2 separate regions of the Homo sapiens genome follow, and region 2 is linked to region 1. Evidence: fine-mapped expression QTL. A gene starts in region 1. The other region holds a variant in brackets. All regions are shown on one strand. Distances are between the middles of the regions. Region 1 holds the start of TMEM119 (transmembrane protein 119). Region 2 overlaps SELPLG (selectin P ligand).

The links. PIP is the estimated chance that this variant, and not a neighbour inherited with it, causes the effect.
Region 2: its variant is fine-mapped to the expression of TMEM119 in whole blood (TOPMed, PIP above 0.99).

Annotation. Positions count from the first base shown.
Region 1 is chr12:108,595,069-108,600,437 of GRCh38, reverse strand. It overlaps TMEM119 (transmembrane protein 119), which reads left to right and starts at 2,354. Exons shown (of 2, transcript NM_181724.3): 1 at 2,354-2,468.
Region 2 is chr12:108,620,537-108,625,905 of GRCh38, reverse strand. It overlaps SELPLG (selectin P ligand), which reads left to right. Exons shown (of 2, transcript NM_003006.4): 2 at 1,594-4,011. The coding sequence starts at 1,599. The coding sequence ends at 2,837. Among named protein-coding and RNA genes, the nearest start is that of SELPLG, 11 kb to the left of the region's middle. The variant A/G (reference allele first, on the strand shown) is at 3,023.

The DNA of each region.
Region 1 (5,369 bases):
GCTTTTGACATTGCTGAGCACGTGCATGCTCCCTAGCTCCTCTGCCTTCCCCTGCCAGCTTCCGAGTAGTAGGGAGTCTCCATCTCCATTTTACAGAGGAGGAAACAGAGGCTCCATGTGGGGCAGGACATGGTGGAGGCAGGATTTGAAGTGGGTCTGTCTGCCTCTCGCTAGATGAATGAATGAATGAATGAATGAATGAATGAATGTAAGGGGCTGCTAATCCACGGGACTCCTCAGGTCAGCCAGATGTCCTGGTTCCAGGGCCTGCCACTAACTCACCTCAGATCCCTGCTTGAACCATTAGAACTCACCTGCCTCACTTTCCCCCTCTGTGAAATGGGGCTCCAACGCCTATTCAAGCTACTATCATTGGGGGCATTGTGAGGCCACAGATCCCAGAACAAACCCTCCAAACCCTCATTGACTCCCTACTGCCTCCTAGGTGACCTTCCAATACTTTAGCCCAGCTCCTGCCAATGTCTCCAACACTTACTACCCCTCCTTCAGGGGGATGCTCTGCCCAGGAGGGAGAAGCAAAGAACGAGGGGAAGGGGACTCCGAGAGCTTCCCTCAGGCTGGGCCTCTGGGGCCACCTGTGCAGGGAGCAGGCTCTATTTGGGTTGGTTGTGTCCCTGCTCCTCGACATCCCAAGGTCCCCAGACTGCAGCCCTCAGAATGTTGGGTAAGGTCTTCTTCCCCTGCTGGTGGGCCCTGGGGGAGGTTTGGCTGCCCCTGACCACCCGATGTCTGGTCTAAGACAGGTCAGGTAGGCCTGGAACACCCCTGGCCACCTTAAAGCGGGCACAGCTGCTACAACATGTCTGTGGGTGGCCACTTGCCCCTGGGACATGTGTGTGCATGAATGTGTCTGTGCGAGTATTGGTGGATGGTCCCCTGTTCCCTCGAAGATGCAGGGTTTGGGGTGATTTCCAGAGAAGATGGGAAAGTCTCTGATTTTATTTCCCAAGCAAATGACTGTCCCAGTTTTCTGGGGGTGAGCGAGGGCTGCTGGGACCATTGCAGGGAACAATGATAATCTAGGCTTGGTTCCTACCCAGAGAGCACGCACTCATCCTTCATGCACTCCCCTGTTCCAAACCCTCACTGGCTCCGTACTGCCTCCGACCTTCCGAGACTTTAGCCTGGCTCCTGTCAACATCTCTGACCCTTACTACATGATCCTCTCTTTGGTCCATGCTCCAGCCTAATCTAATTGCGGTGGCTTGTGCGTGGTGGCATTCCCAGCCACCATACCTTTACCCACGCTGGTCCTTCCATGCGGAATGCCTTTCCAGGGCCTGCTTTGCCCGCTTCTGCTCATACACAGGCATGCCCTCCAGGATGGCTTCCTACCTCTTTCCCTTGGGGGATTGATCTCTCTGTCTTGGGGTTCTCGGAGCCCTTGACCTGACCCCTTTCTGTTTGGCAAAAAAGTAATTTACCTCGGTGTCCTTCTCCCTGGTAGTCTGTGAGCTCCCCAAGGCTGGGCTGTGCCTGATTCACCTCTGGAACTTGCTTAGCACAGTGCGTGGCCTGCTGCAGGTGTTCATTGAGCACTTGCCGAATGAATGCATGAATGAATGAATGAATGAATGAATGCAAGGGGCTGCTAATCCACAGGACTCCTCAGGTCAGCCAGACGTCCCGGTTCCAAGGCCTGCCACTGACTCACCTCAGGACCCTGCTTGAACCATTAGAACTCACCCTGCCTCACTTTCCCCCTCTGTGAAATGGGGCTCCAACTCCTATTCAAGCTACTATCATTTGGGGGCATTGTGAGGCCACAGATCCCAGAACATCAGAGTCAGAGGTAGCCCAGAAAGCTTCCCACCCATCCCTACAAATGGGAAACTGAGGTCTGGAGAGGGAAGGGCAGAGTTGGGCTCCCTGTCTCAGGCTCGGACCCACCATCAGGCCTGTCTCTAAAACGAATCCCAGCTCCCACGCTGCACCCTGAGCCTGGAAGCCTGAGCCACACAAGGACGGGGAATTTTCCTTCCCACTTCCAGAGGCCTCTGAACCTCCCTGAGCTTGTCCCCTTTGGAGGGTATTGGGCAGCAGCGTGGGCAGAACCCCAGCTCACTGTCTGGGGGAGCGCTGCAGGACAGCCTTGTCTGTCTGTCTCAGCCTGCCCTGGGGACCCGAGGTCAGGGAGGAAGTGCCGCATCTGGTCTTCCCCAGAGCGAGAGTGTGAGCAAGGGTGGGATTGCGTGTGGCCCGAGAGTAGCCCCTCCCCTCCCCCTGTCCCCACCCCAAACCCTCTTAATGAAATCAAGCTGGCCCTGCGGCCCAGCCGGGGAGGGAGGAAGGAGGAGGGACGGGAGGAGGGACGGGAGGAGGGAGGGCGGGCAGGCGCCAGCCCAGAGCAGCCCCGGGCACCAGCACGGACTCTCTCTTCCAGCCCAGGTGCCCCCCACTCTCGCTCCATTCGGCGGGAGCACCCAGTCCTGTACGCCAAGGAACTGGTGAGTCCTGGGGTCCCCTCCTCTGTCCTGAGAGCCTGGAGCTATCTTGGAGCTTAGGGACTGGGGACTGTTGGAGCACTCTGGGGGGCCTCTCTAAGTGTGTGTGGGCTTTGAGTGTGTGTTTGGTGTTGTGTGCATGAGTGTGGTGGAATCTGAGTCCCGTGTGCGGTGCTGGGGTGGGCCAGGGTGGGCCGGAGTGTTGTGTGTGTGCGGCTGGGGCCTTGGTGTAGGGGGTGTGTTGCTTCCACTTTTCTGCAAGTGGATGCCAGGCTGTTGCTTCCAGGATCTGTGTGAGGGTGATGTGGACGGTATTGTCCTGTGTGCAGGGATCGGCTGTGTGTCAGGGGGTTGTGTATGTATATGTGTTGTGTGTCCGTGTGTGTTCTCTGTGTATTGTGTGCATGGGCCATGAGAGTGCTGTTGGGTGTCTCAGTGCTGTGTGAGTCGGTGTGCCTGTGTTGTGTGTCTTTATATTGTGTGTCCATGCTGCTCTGTGTGTGTGTGTGTGTGTGGAGGGGGATTGTGCCCCCAGGACCCCCCTCCCCATCCAGACCTCCAGGGCCCAGGTCCCTGTCCTTGGCTGGCCCTGGGGTCGGGGGCATGTGCAGTGCTCCAACCAGAACACCCCTCCCCCACAAGGCCACTGATTGAAGCCAGGTTTCCGTGGGCCGCCCCTCCCCCAAAGGCCACCAGTCTCTGGGTGGGGGTGGGGCAGCCCCCGGTCCCCTAGCTTCAAGTCTTGGGGCCCCCAGGCCTCAGGGGTGCATCTGCACTCCTCCACAGACTCAGGACCATCTTAGGGCATTTGCCACACTTACACACGGCCAGCCCTGCCTGACATGTCCCCAGGCAGGGAGTCCTGGGCAATCACGTGGTACCTGCTAATTGGCACCCACTGTGCACCAGGCATGGCCGCATCTTGTCCTAACAGCAGTCCAGGGAGGTGGCTCTTATCCCCATTGTACAGATATGGAAACCGAGGCTCAGAGAGGTGACATGCCCAGCCCAAGGACACATAGCCGGGAAGTGACCTCCTCTGGGATATACCAAGACAGGCTTCTCTGTCCAGGGCTCTGCTGGGCTCACCCCTGACTTTCTGTGTGACCTGGGCAGGCTGTTTCCAGTCTCTGGACCTGAGTTACCTCTAAGGTGAAGCAAGAGGCGTTGGGCCTGACCCCAGCTCCTAATGGCCTGTTAGATTCTGAGTCCTTGAAAAAATTAGGGTCCGGGGGGAGGTAGGCAGAATAATGACTTCAGAGCTGCCCAGAACAGTGCTTCATTCCACAGATGGGAAACTGAGGCCCAGAGAGGGCAGGGGCCGTCCAGGGCCACACAACCATCTTTTTTGAGGCTCTGCTGACTGCAGGTGGGGCTGGGTCCTCCATACGTTGCCCCCACCTTTCCCTGGAAGCCAGGAGGGGTTGTGGGGTGCAGGGGACTCTGAGAGTCAGGGTCTCAGCCTTAAAGAGCCAGTGGCAGTTTGTGTGTTCTCCTTTCTTGCCCTCTGCCTCTGACTTCGTGTGTGTGTGTGTGTGTGTGTTGTATGTATATGTGTGTGTAGGTGTATGTGTGCATGTGTGTGTATGTGTATGTGTGTGCATGTGTGTGTTTGGTTCTGCATTCCTTGGCGGCCAGAGCTAAAGAGGTTTCACTGAACGGGGTGAAAAGGTTGGTCTTTCACTGGGTGGCGGCCGGACCAGACAGTGAGCGCATGTTCCCATCCGGCGATGGTGCTCATTTGTCGACTCAGGGTGGGAAATTGCTGGCTGAACCTGGAGTTCGGCTAGGGAAGGAATTCAGCTACCCCAGACCCTATCTTTCCTCGGGGCTCAGCTACTTCGCACCAGGCACTCTCTGAAAGTTGTCTCATTTGGCCCTAACAGCTCTGAGAGGTGCTACCTGTGGTCACCCTGTCCCAACTTACGGATGGGGAAAGTGAGGCCCACAGGAGCCAGACCACAGAGCTGGATGCGATGGAGCCGGGATTCTTGACCCAGCCAGAACTTGAGTGGGTCTCCAGCCACCCATGGTCCCAGCTGCCCTCTGCAGTGAGAAGTGGTAGTTGTTGCCACAAAAGCTCTCTCCTAGGCTTGACTGGGGGTGGGAGGCAGGGAGGTGACTGGCAGGTCACAGACCCCAAAGCTCAAGGTTGTCTGTAGGAACCTTTGCTAACAGGTGCCAGAGAGGTGAGGGGGTCCTTTCCTCATTTAGCATCTGACAGGTGATGTCCACCAGCGGGAACAAGCCATTCCTGGCTCAGAGTGTGTGGTGTGTGCATGTGTGTGTGGTTGTGTAGGTGAGTGTGTGTGGTGTATGTGTATGGTTGTGTGTATGTGGAGTGTATGCATATATGTGTGGTGTGTGCATGTGTGTATGATTGTGTGTAGTATGTGAATGTGTGTATAGGGGTGTGTGTGGGGCATGTGTGTACGTGGTTGTGTGTGGGGTGTATATGGGTATGTGTGGCGTGTGTGCATGTTTGTGTGTGGGGTGTGTGTGCATGTGTGTAGATGATTGTGTGTGTAGTATGTGCATGTGTGTATATGGGTGTGTGAGTGTGTGTGTGGTATGTGTGTGCATGGTTGTGTGTGGTGTGTGTGCATGTGTGTATGATTGTGTAGTCTGTGCATGTGTGTATATGGGTGTGTGTGTGTGTGGCGTGTGTGCATGATTATGTGTGGGGTGTGTATGGGGATGTGTGTGTGAGTGTGTGGCGTGTATGAATGGTTGTGTGTGTGGTGAGTGTGCATGTGTATGTATGGCTGTGTATGAGTGTGAGTGTGGTTTGTGTGAATGTGCGTGTAAACTCCTGGGATCAGACAGAGGAAGGTTCAGATCCCAGCTCAGCTACTTATCATCTGTGTGTCCTTGGGGAAGTCACTGTCTGTCTCTGAACCTCTG
Region 2 (5,369 bases), 25 kb before region 1:
GCTGCTGAAGGGTGTTATATCCAGGGAATGCAGGAATACCTGAATCCTGCCCCAGAACGTGGCTGTCACTCACCATAGGATTCTCAGCATAGAATTTTTAATTCTGTAAACACCAGCCAGTGCCAAGGAGAGCATGAGGGGAGAGAAAGAAAACAAGAAAGCACAGGTGTTCACAATGCCAAGAAGAAAGATCAATGAGATGACCAAACAAGAGGCACTGTCTTTTCTGGCTACCTAGTAGGGAGGACAATGTAGAGTCTCTGAATAGACAGTGGTCCTACCCACAGGCACACTCAGTGACTATAAGCTTCCTGAGAGCAGGGCTGTTCTGAAGAGATTTGAGTTTTCTCCTGGCCATGGAGAGTGTAATTAAGTAGCCCTGGGCCCTTGAAGACTTATAGTGCAGGTTGACTGAAAGAACTAAATCAGCCAGTCTTTGCGGAGAGGTTGTCATGCAAACGAAGTGCTAAGGGTCTTGCATGCATCCCTTCATTTTATCCTCACAATAGGCTGTGAAGTAGGCACCGTCATCCCTGTTGTGCATTGTGCAGGCAAGAACACCACCAAAGCAAATGGGACCAAGACAAGACATTGAGAAGGAATGAGACAAACTGAGACTCTGAGGACTGGCAAGGGCTATGGAGGGTGGAAGCAAGATAGGAGAAGGAGGAAGACAGACATATAGAGGTGGCATGGCAGTGGGCAGGGAGAGGGGGCAGCAGGTAGAATCAGACTCCAAGAGGCCTCAAAGGTCCAATAAGCAGCGGTATCTGGGAGGTCTGTGGTTTACAAACTCTTCTGCTTATGGACTTCGTAAGTGGTCAATTAATCTATTTATGAATTCTGTGCAGGTACTACTTTACTCTTATGATAGATTATAAATAATGTAATACTTGAAATTAAGAAGGAGTGACATGAGGTCGGGCGCAGTGGCTCATGCCTAATCCCAGAACTGTGGAAGGCCAAGGTGGGCAGATAACTTGAGGCCAGGAGTTTGAGACCAGCCTGGCCAACATAGTGAAACCCCGTCTCTACTAAAAATACACAAATTAGCTGGGTGTGGTTGTGCATGCCTGTAATCCCAGCTTCTCAGGAGGCTGAGACAGGAGAATCACTTGAACCCGGGAGGTGGAGGTTGCAGTGAGCTGAGATAGCGCCACTGTACTCCAGCCTGGGTGACAGAGCAAGACTCCATCTAAAAAAAAAAAAAAAGAAAAAAGGAGTGACATGAAAAGTTAATAGAACTAGAAGCAGAAGCACTAAATCTTTCTACACCCCAGTGGATTGTCTTGTCCACAAATAAAGTGGCTTAACCAAAATGGAGAGGGAGGCAAATCAATTTCTATGCACCATCTAGAAGAAGTTAAAGGGCCCTCCTGGATGGCTTTATTCATGTTGATGAGTAATAATAATAACTGCTACTGGCTGAGGATCTTCTCCATCCCAGGCATGTCAGGGATGCCTAAGTCCCCAGTCCCTGCTCCAGACCAGACATGCTTCCAGCTGTGGCAGTAGAGGGTGGTGGTCTAGGGTGCTTGCTAAGCCCAAGGGTGAAACTGTCTTGACATCCCTCCGCCCATTGTCTCCTCCTAGGTGCCATGCCTCTGCAACTCCTCCTGTTGCTGATCCTACTGGGCCCTGGCAACAGCTTGCAGCTGTGGGACACCTGGGCAGATGAAGCCGAGAAAGCCTTGGGTCCCCTGCTTGCCCGGGACCGGAGACAGGCCACCGAATATGAGTACCTAGATTATGATTTCCTGCCAGAAACGGAGCCTCCAGAAATGCTGAGGAACAGCACTGACACCACTCCTCTGACTGGGCCTGGAACCCCTGAGTCTACCACTGTGGAGCCTGCTGCAAGGCGTTCTACTGGCCTGGATGCAGGAGGGGCAGTCACAGAGCTGACCACGGAGCTGGCCAACATGGGGAACCTGTCCACGGATTCAGCAGCTATGGAGATACAGACCACTCAACCAGCAGCCACGGAGGCACAGACCACTCAACCAGTGCCCACGGAGGCACAGACCACTCCACTGGCAGCCACAGAGGCACAGACAACTCGACTGACGGCCACGGAGGCACAGACCACTCCACTGGCAGCCACAGAGGCACAGACCACTCCACCAGCAGCCACGGAAGCACAGACCACTCAACCCACAGGCCTGGAGGCACAGACCACTGCACCAGCAGCCATGGAGGCACAGACCACTGCACCAGCAGCCATGGAAGCACAGACCACTCCACCAGCAGCCATGGAGGCACAGACCACTCAAACCACAGCCATGGAGGCACAGACCACTGCACCAGAAGCCACGGAGGCACAGACCACTCAACCCACAGCCACGGAGGCACAGACCACTCCACTGGCAGCCATGGAGGCCCTGTCCACAGAACCCAGTGCCACAGAGGCCCTGTCCATGGAACCTACTACCAAAAGAGGTCTGTTCATACCCTTTTCTGTGTCCTCTGTTACTCACAAGGGCATTCCCATGGCAGCCAGCAATTTGTCCGTCAACTACCCAGTGGGGGCCCCAGACCACATCTCTGTGAAGCAGTGCCTGCTGGCCATCCTAATCTTGGCGCTGGTGGCCACTATCTTCTTCGTGTGCACTGTGGTGCTGGCGGTCCGCCTCTCCCGCAAGGGCCACATGTACCCCGTGCGTAATTACTCCCCCACCGAGATGGTCTGCATCTCATCCCTGTTGCCTGATGGGGGTGAGGGGCCCTCTGCCACAGCCAATGGGGGCCTGTCCAAGGCCAAGAGCCCGGGCCTGACGCCAGAGCCCAGGGAGGACCGTGAGGGGGATGACCTCACCCTGCACAGCTTCCTCCCTTAGCTCACTCTGCCATCTGTTTTGGCAAGACCCCACCTCCACGGGCTCTCCTGGGCCACCCCTGAGTGCCCAGACCCCATTCCACAGCTCTGGGCTTCCTCGGAGACCCCTGGGGATGGGGATCTTCAGGGAAGGAACTCTGGCCACCCAAACAGGACAAGAGCAGCCTGGGGCCAAGCAGACGGGCA[A/G]GTGGAGCCACCTCTTTCCTCCCTCCGCGGATGAAGCCCAGCCACATTTCAGCCGAGGTCCAAGGCAGGAGGCCATTTACTTGAGACAGATTCTCTCCTTTTTCCTGTCCCCCATCTTCTCTGGGTCCCTCTAACATCTCCCATGGCTCTCCCCGCTTCTCCTGGTCACTGGAGTCTCCTCCCCATGTACCCAAGGAAGATGGAGCTCCCCCATCCCACACGCACTGCACTGCCATTGTCTTTTGGTTGCCATGGTCACCAAACAGGAAGTGGACATTCTAAGGGAGGAGTACTGAAGAGTGACGGACTTCTGAGGCTGTTTCCTGCTGCTCCTCTGACTTGGGGCAGCTTGGGTCTTCTTGGGCACCTCTCTGGGAAAACCCAGGGTGAGGTTCAGCCTGTGAGGGCTGGGATGGGTTTCGTGGGCCCAAGGGCAGACCTTTCTTTGGGACTGTGTGGACCAAGGAGCTTCCATCTAGTGACAAGTGACCCCCAGCTATCGCCTCTTGCCTTCCCCTGTGGCCACTTTCCAGGGTGGACTCTGTCTTGTTCACTGCAGTATCCCAACTGCAGGTCCAGTGCAGGCAATAAATATGTGATGGACAAACGATAGCGGAATCCTTCAAGGTTTCAAGGCTGTCTCCTTCAGGCAGCCTTCCCGGAATTCTCCATCCCTCAGTGCAGGATGGGGGCTGGTCCTCAGCTGTCTGCCCTCAGCCCCTGGCCCCCCAGGAAGCCTCTTTCATGGGCTGTTAGGTTGACTTCAGTTTTGCCTCTTGGACAACAGGGGGTCTTGTACATCCTTGGGTGACCAGGAAAAGTTCAGGCTATGGGGGGCCAAAGGGAGGGCTGCCCCTTCCCCACCAGTGACCACTTTATTCCACTTCCTCCATTACCCAGTTTTGGCCCACAGAGTTTGGTCCCCCCCAAACCTCGGACCAATATCCCTCTAAACATCAATCTATCCTCCTGTTAAAGAAAAAAAAAAATGGGACTGGGAGCAGTGGCTCATGCCTGTAATCCCAGCACTTTGGGAGGCCGAGGCAGGTACATCACCTGAGGTCAGGAGTTCAAGACTAGCCTGGCCAACATAGTGAAACCCTGTCTCTACTAAAAATACAAAGATTAGTCAGGTGTGGTGGCACATGCCTGTAGTCCCAGCTACTGGGGAGGCTGAGGCAGGAGAATTGCTTGAACCCGGGAAGCGGAGGGAGGTTGCAGTGAGCTGAGATCACGCTACTGCACTCCAGCCTGGGTGACAGAGTAAGACTCCGTCTCAAAAAAAAAAAAAAAGATTCAATGACCCTTGTTAAAGCATGGTAAGGAAGACTTTGTTCAAGGGGAGTGGGACTCTCTCAATCACTGCAGGGACTGCAGCTATGGGATTTTGCAGTGGGGGCATTTGGGCTCAACTATGAGTACAGCAGGGGCAAGTGGGAGCTGATAGCCAGGGAACAGGGTTGGATATCTGCAGCTGGAAAATTACCAAGAGGAAACATCAGGGGAAGGGGAATTCTGGCTAAACTGACTGCTGGGGATGGGTTCTCGGTCATTTTCTACACTGACCTAACAGGATTCATACTGGAGGCAGGCCAGGGTGCTCAGACATCACCGGGGGGATGGTGGCAGATGAGGAACGTGATCAGATATAGGAGGTGATCAGATATGGGAGGTGATCAGATATGGAGTGGTGGGGGGAGGGTTGTTGCTAAGCTGACTTAGCAGAGTTCTTGTTAGAACTGGATTTTATTTATTTATTTATTTTGAGATGGAGTTTTGCTCTTGTTGCCCAGGCTGGAGTGCAATGGCGCGATCTGGCTCACTGCAACCTCCGCCTCCTGAGTTCAAGTGATTCTCCTGCCTCAGCCTCCTGAGTAGCTGGGATTACAGGCATGCGCCACCACGCCCAGCTAATTTTGTATTTTTAGTAGAGATGGTGTTTCTCTATGTTGGTCAGGCTGGTCTTGAACTCCCGACCTCAGGTGATTCTCCCGCCTTGGCCTCCCAAAGTGCTGGGATTACAGGTGTGAGCCACCACGCCCGGCCCAGAACTGGATTTTAAAAGGAAGTGCACAGATGGGCCTAGGAGAGGACTCAGGGGCCTGACTGATTAAAGCTTGGCCAAGCACAGAATCTTTCCCACTCTCCAGAAGCTCACCCTGACCTCTCCTTTTCACTCAGGCCCTGTCTCTCATTAACAGCCAGTAGCTTATTGGTGATCCTAGATGCAGCCTGCAACCTTTTGTACAACTCACAGAAGCACTGATTTGCTGTCAAATGGTGGAAAAGTTCAAGCTGCCAAACTTTTTCTTAAAGGACCAAACAGTGAATACTGTAGGCCTTAACT